Linked DNA regions of Homo sapiens. The protein of the gene in region 1 interacts with the protein of each later gene in a biochemical or structural test. Each region holds a gene or a part of one and is shown in the gene's direction. Other genes may lie near its edges.

What was found.
Region 2: the proteins of TRPV4 (region 1) and SFI1 interact in a test that uses a peptide from one of them, tested with the Homo sapiens proteins (one study listed by BioGRID).
Region 3: the proteins of TRPV4 (region 1) and TMOD1 interact in a test that uses a peptide from one of them, tested with the Homo sapiens proteins (one study listed by BioGRID).
Region 4: the proteins of TRPV4 (region 1) and SLAMF6 interact in a test that uses a peptide from one of them, tested with the Homo sapiens proteins (one study listed by BioGRID).

Annotation. Positions count from the first base shown.
Region 1 is NC_000012.12:109,823,392-109,830,415, reverse strand, and holds part of TRPV4 (transient receptor potential cation channel subfamily V member 4), read left to right. Parts: intron 1-2,813; exon of another isoform or gene 2,814-3,606; intron 3,607-7,024. UniProt on the Homo sapiens protein: Non-selective calcium permeant cation channel involved in osmotic sensitivity and mechanosensitivity. Activation by exposure to hypotonicity within the physiological range exhibits an outward rectification.
Region 2 is NC_000022.11:31,611,518-31,618,541, forward strand, and holds part of SFI1 (protein SFI1 homolog), read left to right. Parts: intron 1-248; coding exon 249-323; intron 324-1,624; coding exon 1,625-1,699; intron 1,700-1,836; coding exon 1,837-2,013; intron 2,014-2,084; coding exon 2,085-2,338; intron 2,339-3,271; coding exon 3,272-3,343; intron 3,344-3,530; coding exon 3,531-3,762; intron 3,763-5,227; coding exon 5,228-5,360; intron 5,361-5,482; coding exon 5,483-5,561; intron 5,562-6,597; coding exon 6,598-6,709; intron 6,710-6,796; coding exon 6,797-6,901; 3' UTR 6,902-7,024. UniProt on the Homo sapiens protein: Plays a role in the dynamic structure of centrosome-associated contractile fibers via its interaction with CETN2.
Region 3 is NC_000009.12:97,560,644-97,567,667, forward strand, and holds part of TMOD1 (tropomodulin-1), read left to right. Parts: intron 1-2,088; coding exon 2,089-2,178; intron 2,179-3,394; coding exon 3,395-3,525; intron 3,526-5,204; coding exon 5,205-5,312; intron 5,313-7,024. UniProt on the Homo sapiens protein: Blocks the elongation and depolymerization of the actin filaments at the pointed end. The Tmod/TM complex contributes to the formation of the short actin protofilament, which in turn defines the geometry of the membrane skeleton.
Region 4 is NC_000001.11:160,520,243-160,527,844, reverse strand, and holds the start of SLAMF6 (SLAM family member 6 isoform 1 precursor), read left to right. Parts: upstream 1-4,589; 5' UTR 4,590-4,652; coding exon 4,653-4,701; intron 4,702-7,602. UniProt on the Homo sapiens protein: Self-ligand receptor of the signaling lymphocytic activation molecule (SLAM) family.

The DNA of each region.
Region 1 (7,024 bases):
AGCCTTTATTGAGCACTTACTGTGTGCCAAGCACTGAGTCAAGCACCCTCAGCACATTTGGATACAAAACTATTTTTGTCTCTATTTTTCAGAGGGCAGAATGAGGTCTAGAGGGTGAAATCTCTTGCCTGGGTTCTCTCAGCTGAGAAGGGGCAGAGCTGGGACCTGAATCCCATTTGTGTGATTGCAAATCCATCCCTTCACCTGTAAGGTGGCCCGTCCCCATTTGTCTGGACCCTCATTGGGGTGCCTGGGGTCATGGGGGAGCTACTCTGCAGTCCAGAGATAGGAACCTGAGTTGGCCGGGTGCAGTGGCCCACACCTGTAATCCCAACACTCTGGGAGGCCAAGGCAGGTGGATCGGTCGAGCCCGTGAGTTTGAGACCAGCCTGGGCAACATGGTGAAACTCTGTCTCTAGAAAAAATACAAAAATTAGCCGAACGTGGTAGCACGCACCTGTAGTGCCAGCTACTTGAGAGGCTGAGGTGGGAGGATCGCTTAAGCCCAGGAGTGAGAGGTTGCAGTGAACTGCGATTGTGCCACTGCAGTCCAGAGCAAGAGATCCTGTCTCAAAACAAACAAAGAGCCTGAACTGCAGACAGGCCTGGGCTTAAACTGCATCCGCATGTTTAAGACAGGCCTGCTATTCCCCGCTGGAGGAGCTCAGGGAAGCCACCTGGCCTCTCTGGGCTTCCATTTCCTCCTGTGTCAAAGGGACTCTCATCCCACTTTGCAGGGATGACCCAAGGCACGTGGATGGGGCTCTGAAGCACAGCTCTTCTGCCTCAGCCCGTGTCAGCTCCCCTTGTCCCCAGGCCCATTCCAGGGCATGTTTTCTTCCAGCTTATCCCCCAGACATCCTCAGAGAGCCCCTCCATGCCAGGTGGGTGGGTGGAAGGTATTGGGGGCAAAGCTAGACTTGCATTTGGGCAAATAATGATATGTTTTCAGCAATGAAATATTTATGAGCATTGACTGAGTGCCAGGAGCTGTCAACTTTTTTTACTTTCCTGATTTAATGCTTAAAAACTAGGGCTGGAGCCCAGCTGCCCAGGTTCAAATCCCAGCTTCCAATAAGTTCCATTATTCCTTTGGCCTCAGTTTCCTCATCTGGACAATGGGGATAAGGTAATGCCTGCCTTGCTGGGAGGTTGTGGACAGTCTTCAGCACAACCTTGAGTGTTTAGTTTAAAACCAGCATCTATTGCCTGTTGTTCACTTTTTTTTTTATTTATTATTTTTAGAGACAGGGTCTCAGTCTGTTGCTCAGGCTGGAATGCAGTGGTGTGATCATAGCTCACAGCAGCCTCGAACTCCTGGGCTCAAGAGATCCTCCTACTTCAGCCTCCCAAGTAGTTGGGACACACCCAGCTTATTAAAAAAAAAGGTTTTTTTCAGACAGGGGTCTCACTATGTTGCCCAGGTTGGTCTGGAATTCCAGAGCTCAAGTAACCCTCCTGCCTTGGCCTCCCAAAGTGCTCAGATTACAGGTGTGAGGGCTGATGTTCATTTTGATGGTGTCACAGCTTCCCCACTGCCGGGGGTGGGCAGGGGCAGGAATGCTGAGCCCCATTTTACAGCTGAGGAAATCGAGACTCAGAGAGGAAGCAATTTACCCAGGGATGCCCAGCTGGCTCATGGCAGAGCTGGAGCTGGAAGCCAGATCTGAGTGACACTGGTGTCCTTGGGTCCACGAAAAGCCCAGTGGCCAGCTTAGCTTCTTGCGTGGAAAGCTACGCTAGGCTCACCCACCTTGGCGTCTGAGCCACCTTAGCTTACCTCCCAGCTCCGCCAGTTGCTGCTCTGTGACCTCAGAAAGTGGCTTAAGCTCTCTGTTCCTGGGCTTTGCTGAGGTCAGAGCTCTGCCAACTTGAGGAGGGATTTGGGTTATTCTGGCTGCTGCTCTTGTTCTGGCCTGGGCTCCTTCAACCTCGGGTGCCCTTGCAGCCCATGAGCTGGCACCCCAGTGGCCGGACAGGAATGAGGAAGGGACAGGGCCTCACTTTCAATGTGACTCTGACTTCCTTCCCACCCCTAGCCCCTTCCTGAGCATTGGTTTCCCCTTTCTGCCCCGAGCCCTGGCCACTGCCGGCTGTGTGACCCCAAGGAGGTTACATCACTTCTCTGAGCATGTTTCCTCATCGGTGAGGGAGGATCACACGAGACCACACCAGGCGCACAGGAAGCCCTTGCCGGTCTCCAGATGAGGTCAGGGCATTGGAAAGGCCACAGAAGGAGGCGGGGGCTCAGGGGACAGACAGGCGGGCCATTGACCAAACGGGAATATCCTTCTATTTCTTTGGTTAGTGAGTAACAGCAGCCCCTCTTGTCCACCCACCCTGCCCCTTGCACAAAGAGCTCCTCAGTCTCACCAGGCGCCCGTTTTCCCCTGAGGGTGGAGTGGCCTGGGTTCCACCCGGTTGACCGAGTGGGCTGGCCACCTTCTGGGACCATTCCCTGTGTGTGTGTTTGTGTACGTGTGTATGTGTGTGTATATTGATGTGCGTGTGTATGTGCGTATGTGTGTCTGTGTGTGTATGTGTATGTGTGTATATGTATGTCTATATGTGTATGTGTATATGTGTATATATGTGTATGTGTGTATATGTATGACTATATGTTTATGTGTATGTTTGTGTATATATGTGTGTATGTGTGTATATGTATGTCTGTGTGTATGTGTGTGCATATGTGTATGTATATACATGTGTATGTGTGTATGTGAATGTCTATGTGTGCATGTGTGTATGTGTGTGTATGTTTGCGTGTATATGTATGTATGTGTGTATATTGTGTGTATGTATGTGTATATGTGTGTAATGTGTATATGTATTTGTGTGTAGTGTGTGTGTGTGTGTGTGTTTATGGAGGGTGGGTTCCATGGGCTTTGGGCTGAGACCCCAGCAGGTGAGGGTGGGACAGGGGGCATGGGGTTGACTGACCCATGGGTCTGGCTCACTCCTGTCCCTGCTTGGCACACAGGAGGGGCTCAGGAATACCTGTAGATAGAGTGAAGGGATGAATGAAGGAAGGAATGAGTGACTGGACAAGCCAGCCAGGCAGGGCATCAGAAGGAAGCACCTGCTCAGATACAGGCTCTGGCTCTGAGACCAAGTGTGCTTGAGTGAGTGTCCTGGTCTTGTTGAGCCTCAATTTCTTCATCTATAAAATGGGCTCACGATAGTTGTCCTCATGAGAGGTGTTGGTCTTATAGGCCAGAAAACCCCACACATAGCAGGTGCTCCGTAAGCTGTCTGTTAAAAAATGGATGGGAGGAAGCTAATTAGTTAGCTGGGCAGAGGTTCGCTTTGGAGACCTGTCTGCCCTGGAGAGAATGACTAAGCCCGTCTTTCACTCCTTTCCTCTGTTCATTCATTCATTCATTCATTCATCCAGCAAATACATCTTGAGCAGCTGCTATGTGCCAGGACCTGTTCCAGGCATCTGGGCCTCAGCAGTTACCAGAAGGGAGTCCCTCCGCCCTAGAGCTTTTGTCCGAGTGACATCATTCCACACGCAGTGCTTTGAGGCCACTTTGTGAGACTCTGATACCCACAATGACAAGTAATCCAGCAGTGGGAACTGTGATGAGCTCCCTTTTACAGGTGAGGAAACTGAAGCTCGGAGAGGTCAAGTGATCCGTCTGGGGCCACGCAGTTACTAAATGGCAAAGTCAAGATTCAGACTCCAAGCCTGTCACCACTGTGCCATCTTGTCCTGCTGAGTTCCAAGGGATATGGCGTTGAGAAGGGGGGTCCTAGGGAGAGGGCATGGTAGCCCCCAAAGGGATGAATGAACTCAAATGGATTTAAAAGCAGATGGTTGGAAGTCTAGCCACATTCACTTCCTGTAGCGTTGTGGACTCAGTTAAATCTCATTCTTTCTGATCTTCAGTTTGTTCATCTGTGAAATGATAACAATAACACCGACCTCAAATGAGAGAGAAATGTGAAAGTGCTTAGCATATGATAGGTATTGGATAAATGTCAGCCCTTACCTCCTTTCCCCCGGGACTGACTTTATACATCTGGGAATGGAGACAATAATATTTAATGTCTATAGTTATTATTTGGATTAAAATAGATAGAAGGGGCCAGCCATGGTGGTTCACGCCTGTAATCACAACACTTTGGGAGGCCAAGGTGTGTGGATCACGTGAGCCCGGGCATTGGAGACTAACCTGGGCAGTAGAGTGAGACTCCATCTCTACAAAAAATAAATTTTAAAAGTAGGAATGGTGGTACATGCCTGTGGTCCCAGCTTCTGGGGAGGCTGAGGTGGGAGGATTGCTTGAGCCTGGGAGGTCGAGGCTGCAGTGAGCTATGATTGTGCCACTGCACTCCAGCCTGGGTGACAAAGCCATACCCTGTCTCAAAACAAAAAACAACCAAATGGGAGGTGCTGTGTGAAGTGTGCCATGGAGGGTAGGCATTACTGATGGTACATTGCAGGCATTAGCCTCAGTCATAATTCCAAGCAGTTAACCCCTGAGGCAGCAGCTTACTGTTGGCACAGACTGGTGTTGAGGTGGGCTGGGACAGAGGAAGGATCTCAAACTGGTTTTCTGCTGCCTTGGGCTCCCTTCCCCGACTCCTGCCCCATCCACTCATAACGGGCACCTGCCCTCTTCCCCCTCCTCTGATTTGGCAAACTCGGGACTTTTGCTCCTAGAAGTGGGGTAGAGGAACGTATGCATGGACGAGTGTCCTGTCCCTTCTGGTCCTTAGTCTCCCAGCTGGGAGGCAGCCCTTGTCCTGACAGCCTTCTAAAGGTGACAGAAGATGGAAATGAGGTGGCGAGGAAACCCTTTCCAAAGGTGAGGTCTCTGCAGTCACGAGCCCTGGTTTTGGAGCCGGGAAGTCTGGGTTCCAGTGCCTGCCCAGTTCTGACCTCCCTGGACCTCAATGTCATCATCCCCCACCTCCCACTGCAAACTGAGGGAATGTTAGCAAGAATGGCAAAGCAGCCATTGAACATCCTTATCTGTAAAATGGGGGTAATAATTGCTACGACCTGGGTGGGGTTAAGCTGTATTTGCTCCATAGTTATTTGGTATACAGTACATTCATGCTTTAAACTAAAAAATAAGTTCAAGTTCATTGAACACTTGGTGTTTGTTGGGCACTGCACTGAAGGCTTGAATTATCACATTTAATCCTCACAATAGCTCTTTGGGGTAGGAGCTGTTATTTTATTTTTTAATATTTTAAAAAATAAATAAATTTATTTATTTTTTGTAGAGATGGGATCTCACCATTTTGCCCAGGCTGGTCTCGAACTCCTGGGCTCAAGCGATCCTCCCACCTTGGCCTCCCAAAGTGTTGGGATTACAGGTGTGAGCCACTGCACCCAGCCTTATTTTTTAGTTTAAAGCATGAATGTGCTATACACCAAATAACTATGGAGCAAATACGGCTTAACCCCACCCAGGTCGTAGTAATTATTACTCCCATTTTACAGATAAGGAAACCAAGGCCCAGAGATGAGATGTGACTTGTGCAAGACCATACAGCCAGTGAGTGGCAGATGAGATGTAAAGCATTGATCAGGCAACGTTCTCAGACTATAGAATCCTCTCTGGAGTTCTCCGTGGCTGTGACCATCCTCTAGGAGAGGGGCTAGGCCAGAGAGAAGGCGGGCCTAAGGTTTTGTTTTGTTGAGATGGAGTCTCGCTCTTGTCGCCCCCGCTGGAGTGCAGTGGTGCTATCTCTGCTCACTGCAATCTCTGCCTCCTGGGTTCAAGAGATTCTCATGCCTCAGCCTCCCGAGTAGCTGGGATTACAGGTGCATGCTACCACACCCGGCTAATTTTTGTATTTTTGGTAGAGATGGGGTTTCACCATGTTGGCCAGTCTGGTCTTGAACTTCTGACCTCAAGTGATCCGCCCACCTCGGTCTCCCAAAGTGCTGGGATTACAGGCGTGAGCCACTGCGCCCGGCCGGACTAAGAATTTGATGCCTCCCTCCTCCTGGGCTGGAGCTGAGTAGCATGTTCTCAAGCAGGGCTGGCTGAGAGGGTGGAATCCTGGGGCTATGCTCTGATGGGAAGGAAGCGAGATAAGGGAAGAAGGACCTGGAGCCTCCTGGGGTAGTGACTTTGTATCCTTGAGCTCCTACTACGTGCCAGACCTTGTTTGAAACCCTTTATGTGGCTGGGCACGGTGGCCGACGCCTGTAATCCCAGCATTTTGAGAGGCCGAGGCGGTCGGATCACCTGAGGTCAGGAGTTCGAGACCAGCCTGGCCAACATGGTGAAACCCCGTCTCTACTAAAAATACAAAAATTAGCTGGCGCAGCGGTGGGCACCTGTAATCCCAGCTACTTGGGAGGCTGAGGCAGGAGGATTGCTTGAACCTGGGAGACGGAGGTTGCAGTGAGCCAAGATTGTGCCACTTATACTCTAGCCTGGGTGACAGAGCAAGATCCTGTCTCTCTCTGTCACACACACATGCGCACACACACACACACACACAAGAAAGAAAAAAAAGAAACCCTTTATGTGTGCTTAATCTCCATGACATTCCCATGTTGCAACAAGGAAACTGAGGTTCTGGGAGGGAAGTGACCTGCCTGAGGTCACTAAGCCTGGAAGGGTCATTTAGATGTAATTCACATACTCATAACTCAGTCTTTTAAAACGTACAATTCAGTTGGTTTCTTAGTGTATTCAGAGTTGTACAGACATCAGCACTATCTCATTCCAGAACATTTTCATCACCCCAAAAAAGGACTCTGTACCCATTAGCAGTCACCACTCCCCACTCCCAGCCCCTGGCAACAACTAATCTGCTTTCTGTCTCTGTGGATTTGCCTGTTCTGGGCATTTCATATAAATGGAATCCTGCAATATGTGGCCTTTTGTGTCTACAAGGTGCATGCTCTTAACCATTAAGCCACACCGCTTCTTGGTGGCTCCTACCCAGGGGCCGGGACCCTTGGAAATGACTTGGTCCCTGTGAAAGCTCAGAGGGGCATCTGTGTGTGCTGTCAGCCGGCCTCCCTCCAGCCAAGGGCTTGCAGAAT
Region 2 (7,024 bases), on another chromosome or scaffold:
TCCCAGGGAAGACGGCTCAGCGGAAAAACCCGGTTCATGCTGACCCGTGGCTTATCAGTGCTGGGGGACCTACAGAGTGAGTCCTCTAGGCGGCACTCCCTGCCTATGCAGGAGACCCCTGGCACCATCCAGGACTCCTAGCAATGGGAGGACATTCAGCTGGGCAGAGGCTGGGTTAGATCAGGACCCACCCCAGGCTGTCTAGGCTGGGTCAGGACGCCACTCTCTGTGCACTTGCTCTCCCCCAGCTCCTGCACAGGCAGAGCACCCAACTGCTGGCACAGAGACTCAGCCGGACCTGCTTCCGCCAGTGGAGACAACAGGTGGGAACCCAGGAGATGTCCCCTCTGCACTTCCTTCTCCATCCTCTGGCCTGTGAGGCCTGGGCAGTGAATGACCTTCAGCCTACACCTCTAGTTCAGTATTTTTACTATCACCCTCCCCAGGGCCACCTCCTCTACCACCTTCCTGTCATTTCCAGGCACATCAGCTTCCTTCCGTCTGCAGTCTGCATAAGAACAGTTACTTCAAGGCCAGTTTCTCTCTCTACAGTGTTGTATTAAAAAATACATCAGTGGAGGCCGGGCGCAGTGGCTCACGCCTGTAATCCCAGCACTTTGGGAGGCCGAGGCAGGCGGATCATGAGGTCAGGAGATCGAGACCATCCTGGCTAACACGGTGAAACCCCGTCTCTACTAAAAATACAAAAAAAATCAGCCAGGCGTGGTGGTGGGCGCCTGTAGTCCCAGCTACTCGGGAGGCTGAGGCAGGAGAATGGCGTGAACCTGGGAGGCAGAGCTTGCAGTGAGCTGAGATAGCACCACTGCACTCCAGCCCGGGCAACAGAGCGAGACTCTGTCTAAAAAAAAAAAAAAAAAAAAATATATATATATATATATATATATATATAATCAGTGGGCCGGGCATGATGGCTCACGCCTATAATCCCAGGATTTTGGGAGGCCGAGGCAGGAGGATCACTTGAGCCCAGAAGTTCAAGACCAGCCTGGGCAACATAGTGAGACCCCATCTCTACAAAAACAAAACAGAAAAATTAGCTGGGTGTAGGCAGTGCACACCTGTGGTCCCAACTACTCGGGAGGCTGAGGCGGGAGGATTGCTTGAGCCCGGGAGGTCAAGGTTGCAGTGAGCTGTGATCATGCCACTGCACTTCAGCCTGGATGAGAGTGAGATTCCATCTCAAAAAGAAAAATCAGCATAATATCTTAAAAATTAACATGAAATGTGTTTTAAGGCTTTGCTGGGATCTTGCTTTTTAAAAAGCCAAGAGGGATCACACAGAGCAGCATCCACACGTCCCCAGCTCCCTCTTCCCGTTCTGTTGTCCTGTTTTCACCATTCCCCGGACCTCAGGCCGCTGCCTCCACGCATCCCCCTGCAGGAGCCCTTTGCCACCTTCTTTCATGAAGGTCATTCCTCAGGCCACAGATGGAGCGTGTGTTGAGCATCTCACCGCCAGGCACAAGGCTGGCCCTTCCTAGTGGAGGAAGTGGGAGCCTCGACTAGAGAGGGAGCCAAGAGGGACGAGCTGGGCAGGGCCCCGTGATCACCACGGCCTCCTTGAAGGGGCTATAGGGAAATGATCTGGTCTTTCTGGCCCTAGCTGGCAGCCAGGAGGCAGGAGCAGCGGGCGACAGTGCGGGCCCTGTGGTTCTGGGCCTTCTCGCTGCAGGCAAAGGTAATTGGGGCTCTGCATCCTACCATCCCTGCCTCTCCCTCAGGCCTTAGCCCTGCCTTGGGTGGAGGGAGGGCACCTGGTCTGTGGGGGAGCTCTAAGCAGGGAGACCTGGGCCTCACCTCCTGCCCTCCCTGGAGGTGTGGGCCACGTGGCTGGCCTTTGTACTGGAAAGGAGGAGAAAGAAGGCGCGGCTGCAGTGGGCGCTCCAGGCCTACCAGGGGCAGCTCCTCCAGGAGGGTGCCACGCGGCTCCTGCGCTTTGCAGCCAGCATGAAGGCCTCCCGGCAGCAGCTGCAGGCCCAGCAGCAGGTCCAGGTAGGCCCAGGGCCCCTTCCTGTGGGGAGCAGGCAGGGTGTGGCATGAGCTGACCAGAGGCTGTGTTGTAGGCGGCTCACAGTCTCCATCGTGCCGTCCGCCGCTGTGCCACGCTCTGGAAACAGAAAGTGCTGGGCCGGGGCGGGAAGCCTCAGCCCCTGGCAGCCATCGCACCCAGCAGGAAAGTGACGTTTGAGGGTCCCCTTCTCAACCGCATTGCTGCTGGGGCTGGGGATGGCACCCTTGAGACCAAGAGGCCACAGGCTTCTCGGCCTCTGGGAGCTCTGGGCCGCCTGGCTGCTGAGGAGCCCCACGCCCTGGAGCTGTGAGTAGCCTGTGCTCACCTTGTCCTCGCTTCCACCCTGGGCAAAAGGTTGGATGGCATAGCAGGGAGGAAAACAGCCCTGACGGGATGGGACGGGCTGGTCACGGCCTTGTCACAGCTGAGCTGCTGGGAACCCCCTCTTCTCCAGCCAGATCCCATCCCTCCCACGGCAAGAGGGAGAGAATGGAGTGGGATTTCCAAACCCTCTCTCCTTTGCCTGCCAAAGCTCAGGAAATAGGTGTCCCCTCCTCTGCAACACCTTCCTACCCTCTCTCCCGTCCTGCTGACACGATCTTTTCCGGAGTCATACACGTAGTTGACAAAGGGAACAAGCTCAGCTCCTACCCGTGCCTGCCGGCCTCTCTTCTGCTCCATCACAGCCAAGACACTGGCTTTTTGTCAGAAGCCCCTCTTTCTTGTGTGAGCTGGCACCTGTCCCTCTGCCCACCCCTACTATGGTCTCCTCAAACCCTAACCTGCCCTGCCCCATGCTGATGAAGCTGGTGGCTCCCACAGCAACCAGCACTACCCGAGAGCCTTGGGCCTCGGGGGAGATGTCAGGTGGGTGCATGGGGCCTGGGTCCCGGTCCCTGCTGTGCTCCTCACTGTTTGACTGACCTTGATGGGATCCTGAACGTCTCAGAGGCTGCTCCCCTGTGACATGGACCCTGGCGACCTGTACACCAGCGTCACCAGGGTTGTTCTGCAGGTCAAAAGAGACAATGTGGGTGAAGCAGTCCCCTGGCGTCAGGTACCTTTTGTCGGAACTGCTGGGAGCTCTATGGCCCAGGCCCACCCCAGCTTACTTGCTGACCTTGGCCTCGCCTTTCCTGACTTTCAGTCTCCCTATAAAATTGGAGATCCCACAGAGATCTCAGACCCCCCTGCAGCCCCTGGTCAGCCCAGGGGAACAGACCCCATGTTTCTTTCCAGCAACACTGCCCACTCAGCGAGGAAGCAGCCGCGACGCCCACACTTCCTGTTGGAGCCTGCGCAGAGCCAGAGGTCCCTGGGGTGCAGCACCGTGGGCAGGCAGGGGGAGATGGTCAGGGGTCCCCAAAGGCAGCGGGCACCTCCATGTGGGGCCTGTGTTTTGGCAGCCCTGGGGTGGGTGGCCCCCTTTCCTTCTTGTTCTTTGGTCCCAGAGGAGGGTCCTGTGGCCTGACCAGGCTCTTGCCTTCCCTGTGCTCAGGCCTCAGAAGCCACAGGAACATGGCCTAGGCATGGCTCAGCCAGCAGCCCCCTCCCTGACGCGGCCCTTCCTGGCAGAGGCCCCGACAGCACTGGTCCCACACAGCCCCCTGCCTGGGGCCCTGTCAAGCGCCCCTGGCCCGAAGCAGCCCCCGACGGCAAGCACAGGCCCGGAGCTGCTGCTGCTGCCTCTTTCCTCCTTCATGCCCTGCGGGGCGGCTGCACCAGCCAGGGTACGTCCTCCACCACCAGGCCTGGGCACTGGGGCTCTCACTCTGGTCTGACTTCTGGTGCTTTCTCATGCCACAGCTGTACTAGTTTCTGGAAAACCTTGGCACAGGGAGGCCACTCATCCATTTGACAAGCATAGGTAGCCACTGCACACCAGGTCCAAGGGCCACAGCAGTGAACAGCCAGCCAAGGGCCCTGCCATCCTGAAGCTTATATTCTAGTCAGAGACAAGCAAAGAAAAACCCCTGCCTGCAGGCCAGTAAAGTGGCTGCAGATCACGTAGGGTCCTGCAGGCCACAGTGAGAAGTAGCCTGGGATTTGAGAAGAGTAGGAAGTCGGGGAAGGGTTTTGGCAGGGAGCACCATGTCAGGTTTCTGTGCAGGCTGTGGTCACCATGACCACGTGGTCCAGGCAAGTAGTACTGGTGGCCTGGGCTCAGCGGTTGCCACAGAGGGGACAGGTACTCTCTTGGAGGCAGATGAGGCAGGATATGCTGCTCTGAGGGAGTTGCTGAATGAGGGGAAAGAAGGAATCCAGGCTGATGTGGGCTGCTGGCTTGAATAACTTGGGAAACAGAGTTCTTTGACTGGAAGAAGGAACTGGGGGTGGGGACTGGTTTGGGGTGAAGTGTCAAGAGTGTTTTGAACCAGGCTCTTGATGTCAAATTTGAGAGAAAGCAAACGTTGAGTCTGACCTTCAAGGAAGAGGTCAGGGCCAGAGATTGAGAAGAATCTTCAGCACAGGCCGAAGGTAACCCCAGAGCCACTGCGGCCTCTAGGAGGAGAGTACAGGGGAAGGAGAGAGGGGAGGAGGCTCCAAGCAGGGAGCCTGGGTGGGGATGGCCAGGGGGTGTGAGAGCTCAGTAATGGAAGTGACAGCTGCTCTAAGGCCACCAAAGCAGCTGGTTCCTGAAAGGGGATGAGGGGACAGGAAGGAACCAGTTCCTGTGGTGAGTTAGGCCATGTGGGGCCACTTACCCTGGCTGGAATGGTTTGAATGTGGGTTTGAAAGGGTTTTGACCCCTGTCCGGTGATGGAAGGGGCAAGTCCACTCTCACCAGGAGAGGAGGGCATGGAAAAGGCTGTAGAGCAGTGGCCTCTCACTGACCACTTCTCACTGATGTCAAAGCTCAGCAAGGTCATGAGCTTAGAGCAGGTGGGGGTGGAGGGTTGGGTAAGGCAAGGCTAGGAACAGCTGCTCAGGCAGTGGAGGCGTGAGGCGGACTGTGGTGACACGGGGTGCTCCCTGGTTGCTTGCGGGACTTTCCCCTACAGTACCAGGCCCTGTGTGCAGGGGCAGGCTAGACACTGAGCTGGCACGGCCAGTGCCTGGGAAGCCCAGCTCCTGCAGCTGGGAGCCTGGTCTTCCCCCACCCCTGCAGGGCAGGCAGTGACAAGGACTTGGTGTCCCCCTCCCTGGCTTCCTCCTAGCTTCCTTGCTCAGCATCTACCCTTCTTTCCTTTGCAGGTGTCAGCACAGCGGGCTACTCCTAGGGATAAGCCCCCGGTCCCCTCATCCCTGGCCAGTGTCCCTGACCCCCATCTACTCCTTCCTGGGGACTTCTCAGCCACCAGGGCTGGGCCTGGACTTTCAACTGCAGGTGTGTACCTGGGGCCTGTCAGGGCAGAAAGCACTCAGGCCACTCCCGGACCTGGGACTTGCTATTTACCCTGGTCCCCGAGGGGAAAATAGTCTGAAACAAGCTTACTTCTGTCGCCATAGGCAGCCTGGACCTTGAGGCTGAACTTGAGGAGATCCAGCAGCAACTACTGCACTACCAGACCACCAAGCAGAACCTCTGGTGAGCCCTGCGAAACGCCCTGCAGCCCTGGCTACAGGAGCAGGTGTTGCCTGGAGAGGTGGGCAGGCAGTTCCATTTCCCCCGAGCCAGCTGCCAGGGTCCTGTAGGTGGTCTCGGTCTAGCCATGGAGGGGTGTGGGGAGCCCTCAGTGTGTGCTGTCCAGAAAGACCCCATCTCCACCATGGCTCTCTACCCGGCTCAGTGCTGCTTAGGAAGGCCCAAGTCGTCAGACTCACCTGTGCACAGAGGCTCTGCTTCCTATGGGGGGGACGATAAAGTTGAGCAAAACTCTAAAAACCCGATGAGGCCATGCTGTCCCCAGTGACTAATTATAACACTGATATTAAAGGTGCAGAGAAGGGCCAGGCGCAGTGACTCACACCTGTCATCCCAGCACTTTGAGAGGCTGTGATCCAGGCAGATCACGGGGTTAGGAGTTCAAGACCAGCCTGGCCAATATGGTGAAACCCCATCTCTACTAAAAATACAAAAATTAGCCGGGCATGGTGGTGCACGCATGTAGTCCCAACTACTTGGAAGGCTGAGGCAGAAGAATCGCTTCAACCTGGGAGGCGGAGGTTGCAGTGAGCTGAGATCACGCCATTGCACTCCAGCCTGGGCAACACAGCAACACTCCATCTCAAAAAAAAAAAAAAATGCAGAGGAGACAGGCCCGTGACTCAGCTGCACTCAGTGGTCTGGGGACCATTCAACATGCAGCAACCTCAGAGCTTCCAGGGCAACAGACTGGCGCCTCATCCTTGGCTCTGCACAGGGGGAGAGAGACAAGGAGTGTGTTCTTGCCCAGGCCCACCTGAGTTGCTGTCTGCTGGGGAGGGCGGAGGAGACTGGGAGAGGAAAAAGAACAAGTGTTTGGCTCCCAAGCAGGGGCCTGCAGTTCAGGTCAGGGGCCCTACCAGACCACCTCTCTCCACCCGATACCCGCATCAGAATTAGCTGAGGTGCCTCTCCCTGAGCCGGATGGGGCTCTGCCAAGGACCCAGCCTGGCAGGCAGTGGGTATCTCCACCCCTCAGGTCCTGTCGGCGGCAAGCGAGCAGCCTGCGCAGGTGGCTGGAGCTGAACAGAGAGGAGCCGGGGCCTGAGGACCAGGAAGTAGAGCAGCAGGTGCAGAAAGAGCTGGAACAGGTGAGGCCCCAGGCCATCCCCAGGTGTCCCTGGGGACGCCCCGGGCTGTGCTCCCTCTCAGCCCTGCCTGTCCCTCCATGGCCCCAGGTGGAAATGCAGATCCAGCTGCTGGCAGAGGAGCTCCAGGCTCAGCGCCAGCCCATTGGCGCCTGCGTTGCCCGCATCCAGGCCCTGCGGCAGGCCCTGTGCTAGCGTGTTCGCACCAGGAACGCAGGTGCTGGGCTGTCGGGGAGGCCTCAGGCCACCTCCAGGAACAGAACACAGTTTTAAGTTTGATTTTTTTTATTTCAAAATGCTTTGCAATTAAATGAATTA
Region 3 (7,024 bases), on another chromosome or scaffold:
CAAAAAATACAATATTTTTTGTATTGTATATATATATATATAAAGTATTTATATATTGTATATATAAAAAATACAAAAATTACAGGATGACACTCCTGTAATCCCAGCTACTCGGGAGGCTGAGGCAGAGAATTCCTTAAATCTGGGAGGTGGAGTTTACTGTGAGCCGAGATCTCGCCACTGCACTCCAGCCTGGGCAACAGAGCGAGACTCCATCTCAAAAAAAAAAATTTGTTGTTTATCTAAAATTCCAAGTCAAGTGGGTGCAGAGAATCACCAGCAGAAGGGAGAGTACTAGCAAAAGCAGGAGCAGCTATGAGCAGGGGCTGTTTGTGTAGCTGGAGCAGAGAAGCTGTTGGGAGGGGGAGTGCAACAACACTGGTGAGGTGGGGCCAGCCCAGGGAAGGCCTGTGAAGCCAGGCTCTGGGTTTGGATTTGGCTGTACAAGCCACTGTCCTCCCATCTGGACAGCTGCAACAGCCTCACAGCTCTGCAGCCACATCCATCTCTCCCCTCTGTAGTGAGTTCTCAACACAATAATCAGAACTCAGGTCAGACCATCTCACTTCCTGCTCAAGCCTCTAATGGCTTCCCAGGCTGTTCCTAGGAAAAGACACCCGAACTCCTTACTCAGCCTAGAAGACCCTGTAGAATCTGACCTTGCCTAGGTGAATAAAATCTACTCCAGAGGGTTATTGGGCAGATCAAGGAGGGGAGTGTCAGGCAATGGTTCTCAACCTTGGCTGCTCATTGAAACCATCCAGGGAGCTTTAAAAATGCAGGTGCCTGAGCTCCACCCCCAGATATTTTGGGTTAATTGGTCTAGGGTGGGACTGGGCATCAGGAATTTCAACAGATCCCCAGGTGATTCCAGTGTGCAGCCAAATTGGGAATGATGGATACAAAGTGTCTTCCCTGGCCCAGAGCATGTGCTCAGTGAGAGGGGTGGTGTTGCCATGCGTCTGATTATTACCGCCACACATCCAGCTTCTATCCTGTTTCCCCCAGCAGTGATTGTCACAGCTGTGTCATCACTGGTGTCCTGGCCTTGGCCTCTTCCTACTCTCCACCTCCCAACATGCAGCACAGAGCAGCTGGAAAGGTCTTTCCTGAAATGCCAACCTGACCTTCCTCCCTCACTGGCCTGCCACTCTCTGAACCTCGAGGCTTTCCCACCTGCATTCCTCTGCCTGTAATGTTCTATAGCCCTTCTCTTAACTTGACCAACACTTACTCCTCCTTTGCATCCCAAGTTCCTCTTTTATGCTGTCTTAGGACTGAACTTTTTCCTCTACCACACTCAGCATACCCTGTGCTGGTTTTTCATTGTGTGGGAACTTGCTTGGCTCCTCTCTCCCCCAGCACACTTTCAGCTCCATGAGCGGAGACCCAGTCTTTCTTATTCTCCACTGTCCCCACCAGAGCCTAGCACACAGTGCTGGGGTGGGCCTCATTACATGTTGAACAAATGAATGGATGAAAGAATGGCTGAGCACGGGAGCAATAAGATCAGGTTGGCATTTCCAGAAAGAGCTTTCCAGCTGCTTTGTGCTGCATGCTGGGAGGTAGAGGGAAGGAAGAGGCCAAGACCAAGACACCCGTGATGACACAGCTGTGACAATACAGCCAAAGAATGATCAGGCCTCCATTAGGATGGAGATGATGGGATGGGAGGGGGACAGATCTCAGAGACACTGGGATGGTCAAATGGGCTTATGGGGAGAAGGTGCCACATTCCCTGATGTTTTACCCTGAGGGACAGGCAGGATGACAAGATGGAAAGAGAGCCTTCCAAAGAAAGAGGCTGTCACTGGAAAGAGCCATTCTGGTTTGGCCACGTTGAGCTGGATGTGCCAGCAGGACATCAGGGAATCAGAGGCCAGGGGCAGAGCAGCCTGGGCTGGGGCTGGGGATTTCAGAGTCACATCAATAGAGGTGAGAGTAAAAGTAAAATAAAATTTTGAAGTTTTCATGCAAGTGTTTCTTGCCATTTCTGTGAGCCAGAGTTCCCGGGGTTTGGAGTGTGGGTCCCTAGGAGGCTCTTCTGTCTGCAGAGGCACATCATGAGCCCTTCCCTTGTCCCTGCAGCGATCCTGGGCATGCACACGCTCATGAGTAACCAGCAGTACTACCAGGCCCTGAGCAGCAGCTCCATCATGAACAAGGAGGGGCTCAACAGTGAGTATGCGCCCGCCCCCAGGAGGGACCTCATGCTTCTTGCTTCCTCCACTCACTGATGTTCTCTGGCTCATTGCAGAAGTTTTAACATGTTATATAGCCAAATCTGTTCATCCTTTCCTTTGAGTCTCCTGGGATTTGTGTCTTGTTTACAAAGGCCTTCTCTATCCCAGTATTATAGAAATGTTCTCCTATATTTTCTTCTAAAAGTTTTAGAGATTTACTTTTTATATTCAACTTTTTCTTTTTTTAGACAGGGTCTTGCTCTGTCAGCCAGGCTGGAGTGCATTGGCACAATCTTGACACACTGCAGCCTGGACCTCCTGGGCTTAAGCGATCCTCCCACCTCTGCCTCCTGAGTAGCTGAGGCTACAGGTGTATGCCAGCATGCCTGGCTAATTTTGTTTATTTTGTATGGAGATGAGGTCACACCATTGCCCAGACTGGTCTCGAACTCCTGGACTCAAGCAATCCTCCTGCCTCAGCCTCCCAAAGTGCTGGGATTACAGGCATGAGCCACCACACCTGGCCTTATATTCAACTTCTTAATCTACCTGGAGTTCATGTTTGTGTGTGCTGTGGGATGAGACCAAACTTTCATTTTTTCGAATTAATATCCAGTGGTCCCAACACCATTCCTTGCAAGATTTATCCTTTCCCCACTAGTTTGGGGCCTGCCTTTATCATCCACATGGATCTGTTTCTAGGTGCCTCCTCTGTTTCATGAGCCCTTTTGTCCTTTCCTGTGCCAATATTGCATTGCCTTAATTACTCCACTGCATTGTTCCAAAGCTGGCATTTTGGCCCCAAACAGAAATGAGGCTGCCAAAAAAAATAATTATTCCTCCCTCTGGAAGATTGATGCATTTCTTTCCCATCCGGGCTTCATCTTAGCCTCCCAAGAGTCCACTGAGGTCATGAGCCCCGGGAAAATGACTAGCCCTGCCTTACAGATGTAGACCCAAGGTTCAGAGAGTTTAAGTAATTCACCCAGTTCTTGCAGGACGTCAAAGGCAGAGTCCAAGTAGAACCCCAGCCTCCTGGCTCCCTTGCGGGGCTTCTTCTGAGTGGTGCCCCCTACCCCCACCCAGCCCCTGTGATGTGCAGCCCTCACGTGCCCCAACCCTGCACATGCTCCCTTCCACAGTATCTTTGTGTTGGCAGAAAGTGAGCCCCTTGTTTCTGTGAGCCACCTCCCTTTCATCGGTCACTCTAGGCGTGATTAAACCCACACAATACAAGCCTGTGCCCGACGAAGAACCAAATTCAACAGACGTAGAGGAAACGCTGGAACGGATAAAGAACAACGACCCAAAACTTGAAGAAGTTAACCTCAATAATATCCGGGTAAGGTCCATTTATTTCACTTTACCTGTGTGTGGCTGGGGGAGGGGGAACCATGTCACCCAAATGCAAACGGTCCAGGGTTGGTTGTGCAGAGTAAACAGGGTCCTGTTTGGATTCTGGGTGTTTCTGCATTGGGAATAGGGACAAAACCTTTGCAAATGGGAGCCTTTAAGAGGGGTGGGCAGTGTAAACAAGTGCATCTGGCAGTCCTGGTTTCTTTCTGAGGATGATATCAGGCCCAGATGTTTAGCACGGGCCAACCCAGCTTTGATCTGGAAACCTGCCACGTTATTCAAAACACTGAGAGATTCTCCGAGATAAAATCATGAGTCAGACACACGCTGCTGCATGGGATCTCAAGGCTGGAAAAGTCCGGTGCCCACTAGGCTCGGGGGTAACACAGGCCCTGGGCAGGCCCCTCCCCTGTGCCATCGCTGCTGCTATATCACGTTCATATTCAGCCTTGTTTTACAGCCACAGAAGGGAGCTGTTGGCCAAAATGTCCAAAGCGATATCCCAAGCTGTCTGCCCTTTTCTCTGTGCACATTTCCTTATGTGATCCCGGGGCAGGGGAGGGACAGGTGGACAGGCAGTCTCACCCTGAACAGGCCGCCGCAGGAAGAATTCAGAGACAAATGCAGCTTTCTACCCACCTGCTGAGCCCAGAGACCAGTGGATTAGTTCTGGGAGGGGGGTGGGGGTAAGACTAGAAGCCAGCCCCCCATGCCCCTGCTCCACTTTCTTTCCTTCTCCACTTTATTTTAAGCAGCTGCCAGCCCCACGGCACCATCAGATTGGAAACCTGCACCCTAGTGTTCACCCCCACCTGGCCTCCCCATGCTCTGCTCCCATGGGAGCTAAAGTGACGCTCTGAGAGATTGGTAAAAACACAGCCATGTTTTCTTTCATGTGCCCAGTAGGAGACATTGGCACAATTCAGAATGCTGCCCACTGGCAGTGAATGCTGCCTCAGGGCCACATGAGGGATGGAATCTCCCTGTGAGGCCCCAGCCTCCTCTGGGCCTCAGTTTCTCCTCTGCACTGTGAGCCTGTTGGACCAGATCAGTGGTTTTCACCTGAGAAGATTAAAAAATATATACCAACGCCCAGGCCTGACCCTAGAGATTCTGATTCTATTGTTCTGGGCCGGCCCAAGCATCACCATTTTGTAAAAGTTCCCCAGGAGTCTCTGATGTGCCGCTGGAGCAGAGACCCCCTGGGGTAGATGTCTCTTAAAGAGTATCATATGCAACCCCCTTACCTGTTTTCCAGAAACAGGGCCAGAGAGGGCAGGAGGCTTCCACAGAGACACCTAGCAAGTCAGGAACATTGCCGATCATTGGGACCAAGGCCAGGTTCCAGCCCCTCTCACACCCCTAGTCCTAGCTCTTTGCACAATACTACACGCCTTAATTTTTGCCTCTTCTCTGGCCCCCAAGTGCACAAAGAAAGAGGTTACAGGTCTTATCTGAAATTTTCAGGGAGGATTTTCTAAATCTGTTTACCAGAAAGTTCTCCCCAGATTTCAGTCGTCCGGGACAAAGCCTAAACCTTTTGCCCATTCAGCTTTTTGGCCAGAGACTTGCCAGGAATCAGAGAGTAGCCAGGCTAATCCACCTGCCTCAGCCTGTCCCAGAGGAGGCTTCTGGTCACTCTCTCTGTTGCCTTTCTTTGTGCAGAATATCCCCATCCCCACCCTCAAGGCATATGCAGAAGCCCTGAAAGAAAACTCATATGTGAAGAAGTTCAGCATCGTGGGGACACGGAGTAATGACCCCGTGGCGTATGTATGTACCTTTCTGTTCTGTTGCATTGTGGCTGGGGGCCTTGAAACAGAAGGGTTGAAATATGTGGCCTCAGGACTGGTTGTATCCCACTAACAAAGAGCTCTATGTGGTACAGTGGAAGGCATTGGACCAGGAGCCATGAGGGGTGTAGAGGGAACAGCCATCACCTGGCACCACCTACACGTCATCCTGGCCAATCCTCACACCCACTTCTGGTCTCAGATGTGCAGTTCTCCCCACTTTGCACTTAAAAAATCTAGGGTTCGGAGAGGTCAGGCAACTTGTTTTGTCCAGTCACACAGCAAGTGAGAGGTGGACCTGCAAGTCCAGTGCAGTCACGTGACCCCTAAATCTTCACTCGGCACATCATATTAGAACAAGAGCCTGCCCTTCCCTGTTCCTCAGTTTTTCCATCTCTAAAATCAATGGTTTTGGTTGGGCGCAGTGGCTCACACCTGCAATTCCAGCACTTTGGGAGGTCAAGACGGGTGGATCACTTGAGGTCAGAAGTTCGAGACCAGCCTGGCCAACATGGTGAAACCCCGTCTCTACTAAAAGTATAAAAATTACCTGGGCTTGGTGGTGCATGCCTGTAATCCCAGCTACTCGGGAGGCTGAAGCAGGAGAAGCACTTGAGCCCAGGAGGCGGAGGTTGTAGTGAGCCGAGATTGCACCACTATACTCCAGCTTGGGCGACAGAGCGAGGCTCCATCACAAAATAAATAAATAAATAAATAAAAATTTAAAAAAATAAAAATGATGGTTTCATCAGCAGGTCCCAATGACCAATTTTATTTTATAAGTCTCAAAAGATATTTCTGATCAAATTAAATTGTACTTACTCTGAAGTAGCCATCAACTCTTCTTTTTAAACATCCAGCACATATGTATTGAGAGTCTCTCTGTGCCCAACGCTGAATTAGGTTCTGGGAATACAATTGTGACCAGTCTCAGCTTCCACTTTCATAAAGATTCTGGTCCATTTGGCCAAGCAGACAACTAAAGGGTAACAGTACAGTGCAATTACTGCAAAGCTAGATTCCTGCAAGAAGGGCAGAAGCTAGTTTATCAGGGCTAGTAATTAACCATTTAGTAGCAATCGATTTTTTTCTGATTCTTAAAATAGGTAAGACAGTGTTCTTTCATATTTTTGAAATAATAGAAATAGCTCACAGTCTCTCATTGCTGTCAGTGGGGAACCTCTGGATTGATGACCTCTGACCTCAGATCTCCATGGTTCCTTGCCCATAGGAACACAGCTGGCAAAGCCACATGCCCTGTATGCTACTATGTCATGGGTCAGAAACCAAGCACATCCATTCTGGCCCTCAGCTCAGGTCCACAAATGTTTTTTGGGCATGGACTCTGCCAGACCAACAGCTGATATCAGCCTATGCACACCAGTATGCCCGTGTCAAACACTGAGATGCTTCTGGGCCAGTTGGTAAATCAGGCTGCCAGAGCTCTGTCAGGGCCCCCACCGCCTGCCCTAGCTTTTCTCCTGGCCCCGGTTCCTCCACTGGGACCCAGCATACAAGGAGTTAACACCTGGCAAGACAGGGCCTCCAGGACCTGCTCAGCCACCAGCATGTCCAGTTGGATCAGCCTAGCAGGTTGCCTACTGGTTGTTATTTTGATTTTTTTTATTAGATTTGATTAAGCCAGGCCAGGCCTTTCCTGGGAGCAGGAAGGTTCTGGTGGAAGACACAGAG
Region 4 (7,602 bases), on another chromosome or scaffold:
AAAGACACACATAGGCTCAGAATAAAGGGCTGGAGCAATATTTACCAAGCAAATGAAAAGAAAAAAAAAGCAGGGATTGCAATCCTAGTCTCTGATAAAACAGACTTTAAAACAACAAAGATAAAAAAGGACAAAGAAAAGCATCACATAATGGTAAAGGGATCAATGCAACAAAAAGAGCTAACTATCCTAAATAGATATGTGCCCAATACAAAGGACCCAGATTTATAAAGCAAGTTCTTAGAGACCTACAAAGAGACTTAGACTCCCACACAATAATAATGGGAGACTTTAACACCCCACTGTCAATATTAGACAGATCAATGAGACAGAAAATTAACAAGGATATCCAGGACTTGAACTCAGCTCTGGAACAAGAGGACCTAATAGACATCTACAGAACTCTCCACCCCAAATTGACAGAAGACACATTCTTCTCAGCACCACATCACATTTATTCTAAAACTGACCACATAATTAGAAGTAAAACACTCCTCAGCAAATGCAAAAGAATGGAAATCATAACAAACTGTCTCTCAGACCGCAGTACAATCAAATTAGAACTCAGGATTAAGAAACTCACTCAAAACCACAAAACTACATGGAAACTGAACAATCTGCCCTGAATGACTACTGGGTAAATAAAAAAATTAAGGCAGATATAAATAAGTTCTTTAAGGCCAATGAGAACAAAGACACAATGTACCAGAATCTCTGGGACACAGCCAAAGCAGTATGTAGTGGGAAACATAGCACTAAATGCTCACAAGGGAAAGCAAGAGAAATCTAAAATTCACATCTGACATCACACTTAAAAGAACTAGAGAAGCAAGAGCAAACAAATTCAAAAGCTAACAGAAGACAAGAAATAATTAAAATCAGAGCAGAACTGAAGGAGATAGAGACACTAAATACCCTTCAAAAATCAATGAATCCAAGAGCTGTTTTTTGCAAAGATCAACAAAATAGATAGCTAGTCAGACTAATGAAGAAAAGAGAAGAATCAAATAGACACAATAAAAAATGATAAAGGGGACATTGCCACTGATCCCACAGAAATACAATCTACCGTCAGAGAATACTACAAACACCTCTACACAAATACTAGAAAATCTAGAAGAAATGGATAAATTCCTGGACACATACACCCTCCCAAGATTAAACCAGAAGGAAATCAAATCCCTAAATAGACCAATAAAAAGTTCTGAATTTGAGGCAGTAATTAATAACCTACCAACCAAAAAAAGCCCAGGACTAGATGGATTCACAGCCGAATTCTACCAGAGATACAAAGAGGAGCTGGTGCCATTCCTTCTGAAACTATTCCAAACAATAAAAAAAGAGGGACTCCTCCCTAACTCATTTTATGAGGCCAGCATCATCCTGATACCAAAACCTGGCAGAGACACAACAAAAAAAGAAAATTTTAGGCCAATATCCCTGATGAACATTGATGTAAAAATCCTCAATAAAATACAGGCAAACTGAATCCAGCAGCATATCAAAAAGCTTATCCACCAGCCGGGCATGGTGGCTCGTGCCTGTAATCCCAGCACTTTGGGAGGCTGAGGTGGGTGGATCATGAGGTCAGGAGATCGAGACCATCCTGGCTAACACAGTGAAACTCTGTCTGTACTAAAAATACAGAAAAATTAGCTGGGCGTGGTAGTGGGCACCTGCAGTCCCAGCTACTCAGGAGGCTGAGGCAGGAGAATGGCATGAACCCAGGAGGCGGAACTTGCAGTGAGCCAAGATTGTTCCACTGCACTCTGGCCTGGGCGACAGAGCAAGACTCCACCTCAAAAAAAAAAAAAAAAAAAGCTTATCCACCACAATCAAGTTGGCTTCATCCCTGGTATGCAAGGTTGGTTCAACATATGCAAATCAATAAATGTAATTCATCACATAAACAGAACCAATGACAAAAACCACATGATTATCTCAATAGATGTAGAAAAGGCCTTTGATAAAATTCAACATCCCTTCATGTTAAAAACTCTTAATAAACTAGGTACTGATGGAACGTATCTCAAAATAATGAGAGCTATTTATGACAAACCCACAGCCATTATCATACTGAATGGGCAAAATCTGGAAGCATTCCCTTTGAAAACTAGCACAAGGATGCCCTCTCTCACCACTCCTATTCAACATAATATTGAAAGTTCTGACCAGGGCAATCAGGCAAGAGAAAGAAGTAAAGGGTATTCAGATAAGAAGAGAGGAAATCAAATAGTCTCTGTTTGCAGATGACATGATTGTATATTTAGAAAACTCCATTGTCTTAGCCCAAAATCTCCTTAAGCTGATAAGCAGCTTCAGCAGTCTCAGGATACAAAATCAATGTGCAAAAATCACAAGCATTCCTATACACCAAAAATAGACAAACAGAGAGCCAAGTCGTGAGTGAACTGCCATTCACAATTGCTACAAAGAGAATATAATACCTAGGAATACAACTTACAAGGGATGTGAAGGACCTCTTCAAGGAGAACTACAAACCACTGCTCAAGGAAATAAGAAAGTACACAAACAAATGGAAAACCATTCCATGCTCATAGATAGGAAGAATCAATATCATGAAAATGGCCATATTGCCCAAAGTAATTTATAGGTTCAATGCTATTTCCATCAAACTACTATTGACTTTCTTCACAGAATTAGAAAAAACTACTTTAAATTTCATACAGAACCAAAAACGAGCCCATATAGCCAAGACAATTGTAAGCCAAAAGAACAAAGCTGGAGGCAGCACGCTAACTGACTTCAAACTATACTACAAGGCTGCAGTAACCAAAACAGCATGGTACTGGTACCAAAACAGATATATAGACCAATGGAGCAGAACAGAGGCCTCAGAAATAACATCACACATCTACAACCATCTGATCTTTGACAAACCTAACAAAAACAAGCAATGGGGAAAGGATTCCCTATTTAATAAATGGTGTTGGGAAAACTGGCTAGCAATTATGCAGAAAACTGAAACTGGTTCCCTTCCTTATACCTTACACAAAAATTAACTCAAGATGGATTAAAGACTTAAATGTTAGACCTAAAACCACAAAAACCCCAGAAGAAAACCTAGGCAATACCATTCAGGACAAAGGCATGGGCAAAGACTTCAATACTAAAACATCAAAATCAATGGCAACAAAAGCCAAAATTGACAAATGGGACCTAATTAAACTAAAGAGCTTCTGCACAGCAAAAGAAACTATCATCAGAGTGAACAGGGAACCTACAGAATGGGAGAAAATTTTTGCAGTCTATCCATTTGACAAAAGGCTAATATCCAGAATCTACAAAGAACTCAAACAAATTTACAAGAAAAAAAAAAAAACCCCAACAAAAAGTGGGCAAAGGATATGAAGACACTTCTCAAAAGAAGACATTTATGCGGCCAAGAAACATATGAAAAAAGCTCATCATCACTGGTCATTAGAGAAATGCAAATCAAAACTACAATGAGATACCATCTCATGCCAGTTAGAATGGCAATCATTAAAAAATCAGGAAACAACAGATGCTGGAGAGGATGTAGAGAAATGGGAATGTTTTCACACTGTTGGTGGGAGTGTAAACTAGTTCAACCATTGTGGAATACAGTGTGGCGATTCCTCAAGGATCTAGAACTAGAAATACCATTTGACCCAGCAATCCCATTACTGGTTATATACCCAAAGGATTATAAATCATGCTGCTATAAAGACACATGCACACTTATGTTTATTGCAGCACTGTTCACAATAGCAAAGACTTGGAACCAACCCAAATGCCCATCAATGATACACTGGATAAAGAAAATGTGGCATATATATACCATGGAATACCATGCAGCCATAAAAAAGGATGAGTTCATGTCCTTTGCAGGGACATGGATGAAGCTGGAAACCATCATTCTCAGCAAACTAACACAAGAACAGAAAGCCAAACAACGCATGTTCTCACTCATAGGTGGGAACTGAACAATGAGAACACATGGACACAGGTAGGGGAACATCATACACTGGGGTATGTCACGGGGTGGGGGGCAAGGGGAGGGATAGCATTAGGAGAAATATCTAATGTAGATGACAAGTTAATAGGTGCAGCACACCAACATGGCATATGTATACATATGTAACAAACCTGCACATTGTGCACATGTACCCTAGAACTTAAAGTATAATTTTAAAAAATCAGTTTTCTTTTGGCTTTTTCTTAGCTTTATACTTAAATATTTTTTTCTAATGTAATTAGAGTGGAATTGTTTTTTGAATTTTATTTTTGGATTACTCATAGCTAGTATATACAATTGCAATTGAATTTTATATTTTGATTTTGTATCTTTTCACCTTGCTGAACTCATTTATTTGTTCTAGTAGATTTTAGGAAATTCCTTACAGACTTTTACATATAAGTTTATGAAAGATGCAATAAAGGACTTTATCTTCTTTTCCAAAAAAAAAAAAAATTTGTGCACTTAGCTCAGAAAAAAGTAAACAAAAAATTAACACAGTTACAAATTAGGATTTTTAGTGCAGGGGAAGAAGTTGTCACCACGCCTCTAAGAGGAAGGGGAAGTCTCAGAAGTATTTTCAGTTTATGACAGAAGGGCAAAAACATTGACTGCCTCAAGGTCTCAAGCACCAGTCTTCACCGCGGAAAGCATGTTGTGGCTGTTCCAATCGCTCCTGTTTGTCTTCTGCTTTGGCCCAGGTAAATGTCAATCCAGATCGGTGTAGTCACTGAGTGACTCCCTGGTTTTGTGCAGCTTGCTCAACCTAAATCGTCTGTATACAGTTGTCTGGCTCTCTGCCAAGGGATTGGGGCGGGAAAGGGGACGCTGGCAGTGTTACCTGATATACTACTACCTCCTCTCAACTTTGGATGCGATAAGCCTGAGATGGTTGTCGGTGAACAATTTCAATTGTGTCTGCATGTAAGAAAGTTATTTGCTGGGGCAGAGGAAATAAGCTTTTGAAGACAAGACTGTTTGTGGTTTATGACCAGCATCTTGTGTTATAAAGAGTACCAAGACCAAGAAAATGGGCCCTCATACCAATGTATCTACTATCGTACTGTGAACCTCAGGGAGGTTACTTATCCTTCCTGAACCTCACTATCCTCATCTAAATTATTAAAAACCTATTATTCAGTTGAGCCAAATTTTCTGGGCCCAACCAAACACACCAAAAATAACCCTCTCACCTTTTGCTCATTGCAAAAAAAAAGGTTTCCATCTCTCCCCTCCTTTAGTGCAAATTAGGGCTAGCTAGTCCAGCAATGCATTATATATGGCAGTGAGAAAAGAATGAACTGATCCAGCTGGCTTCTTGTTTCCTGCTGTCCATTATATGGAGAAGATGAAGATTCATATCACATTTGGGGAACTACAAGTGGTCCACGGGAGACAAAGTGTAGCATTCAGGCAGAGATAGTCCAGGAGACCAATGGAAATCTAGTCCAGAGCTAGCCCAGGGTAGCAGATAAAAGTAGGAAGCATTCACTGAGCACTTATTGTATTTCAAGTATTGTGCCAGGTGCTGTACACACGTTATGAGTCTCATGAGAATTCTATGAATTTATACTATTAATATCTCCATTTTAAAATGAAGAACTGAGGTGAACTTAATTTAAATAATTTGCCCAAATTTCATTAGCCAGCATGCGACAAGCTCTTGTAATAGTTATGAGAAAAAATAACAGTTCAACAAGTGTGGCAGCAGCATAAGAGAAAGAAGAGACTGAAGCAAGAGATCCCATCAATATGGAGTTAAGTAGAGTAATTGGTAATTGGAATGAGAAAGGAATAAATATTCATTGAGCACCTACTGAATGCTTGGCACTCTTCTAGTTTGCATGAATACATCATGAACAAAGCAAGCAAAAATTCCTGCCCTCATGGAGTTAACATTTTAGCAGGAGACAAACTGTAAAAAAAGATAAACAAGTAAAATAGTGTATTGGGTAGGAAGAAATAAATCAAGAAGGAAAGGGAGAGATGAAATATGGTAAAGACGGCAGTGAAATTTCAGACAGGATAGCCAAAGAAAGTGACAAAATTGGAAGGTGGAGAGCAGCCACAGGAGGAAGGTGAGTTCAATTTTGGACCTACTGATTTTAGGATGTCAGTGTGCTATACATGAGGAAGTTACGTGGAGGATCCTGGGAACTTAGGACTAGGGGTAGAGCTGAGGCTAGAGACTTAAAAATCAATGGCATAGAGATATGTTAAGCTGAGGAGAAAACTGGAATGAGAACAGAACTTTGGGAAATATATATAAAATGCAGAAAGAGAGAGAATTCTTTCCTTCATTCAAGAGCCACTTCCTGATCTAGGAGCAGAATCTTGAGTTTTTGCTTCATTTTTACCACCCTGCAAAATTATTTCCACCTCTAGAATAAAATATTCTGAATGTCCTTGTGTTAAAACTCCTCTTCTTCTCCCTATTTCCATGAATACTTCTTATAATGACCCTATGAAATATACAGTGCTCCAATCTCCACTTCACAGATGGGGAAAGAAGGCACAGAACACTAAAGTAACTTGCTCACTGCCCCACATTTATGGGGGAAATGGGTATAGAAAGAGAAACACATTTGAATGAGTTTACAGGAGGCAGATGCAGGTGTTCTGAGACCCAGGAGGAGAGAAGTGGCTGCTAGAATTGGAAATCAGGAAGCTTGGCTCCGGAGTCTGTGCTCATAGCCACTTCACTATGCTACTTAGCTTACACACAGTCATACATTCACACAAATGTGTACATAATTAGAAAATGTGAGGCCAGCAAAAAAAATAAGCAGGGCACCTTCATAGAGAAAAACACGGGGACCTGCTTTGGACGGAGTGATGAAGAAAGGACTTCCTGGAAAAGTAACATCTCATCTGATATTTAAAGGGTGTGAAAAGTTAAACAGGAAAAGTCAAATGAAGAAGATTTTAGGGCAGAGGGAATCATGTGTGAAAAGCCGTGATGCAGGAAAGAGCCTGGAGTGATTTAGGAAGGGAAAGAAGACCACTGTTGCAAAAATGTGGGGCAAATGAAATTAATCTTTGAAACAACCATGAAAAACAATGACTCATGCCAGCCTACATTCTTTGAAGTGGGTTGGGCACTATCCTGACTCCTTTTAGAAAATTTAGTGGAAAAGACAAACCATATTGAAAAATAATCCCATTTCCTTTAACTCAAGCCCTGGGTGGCAAAACTAACAGAACAAAACAATAATTGTAAATAAAATCAAGCATCATGACTTCCTAGAGAAAATAAATCTCGTTTGTTTCTTCATTTTGATTTTTATAGATGGAAAGTTGGAAATTTGTCAAACTTAAATGTGCATATAAATTACTTGGGGGAATCTTATTAAAATGCTGATTGGGGAATAGGGACTGAGATTCTGCATTTCTAAGAGGCTCCCAGGTGACACCAATGCTGCCTGTCCATGGACCACACTAAGCAGCAAGGTTCTAAATTCCAATGGACTTCAGTCATACTGGGATTGTAGGGAGGAAGAAATAGAAACTAACTTTGAGTGTGTTTGCAGGAAGCAGATATAGGTATTCTGAGGTCCAGGAGAGAGCAGTGGTTGGAAATGTAAGTAAAGCAAACACATGAG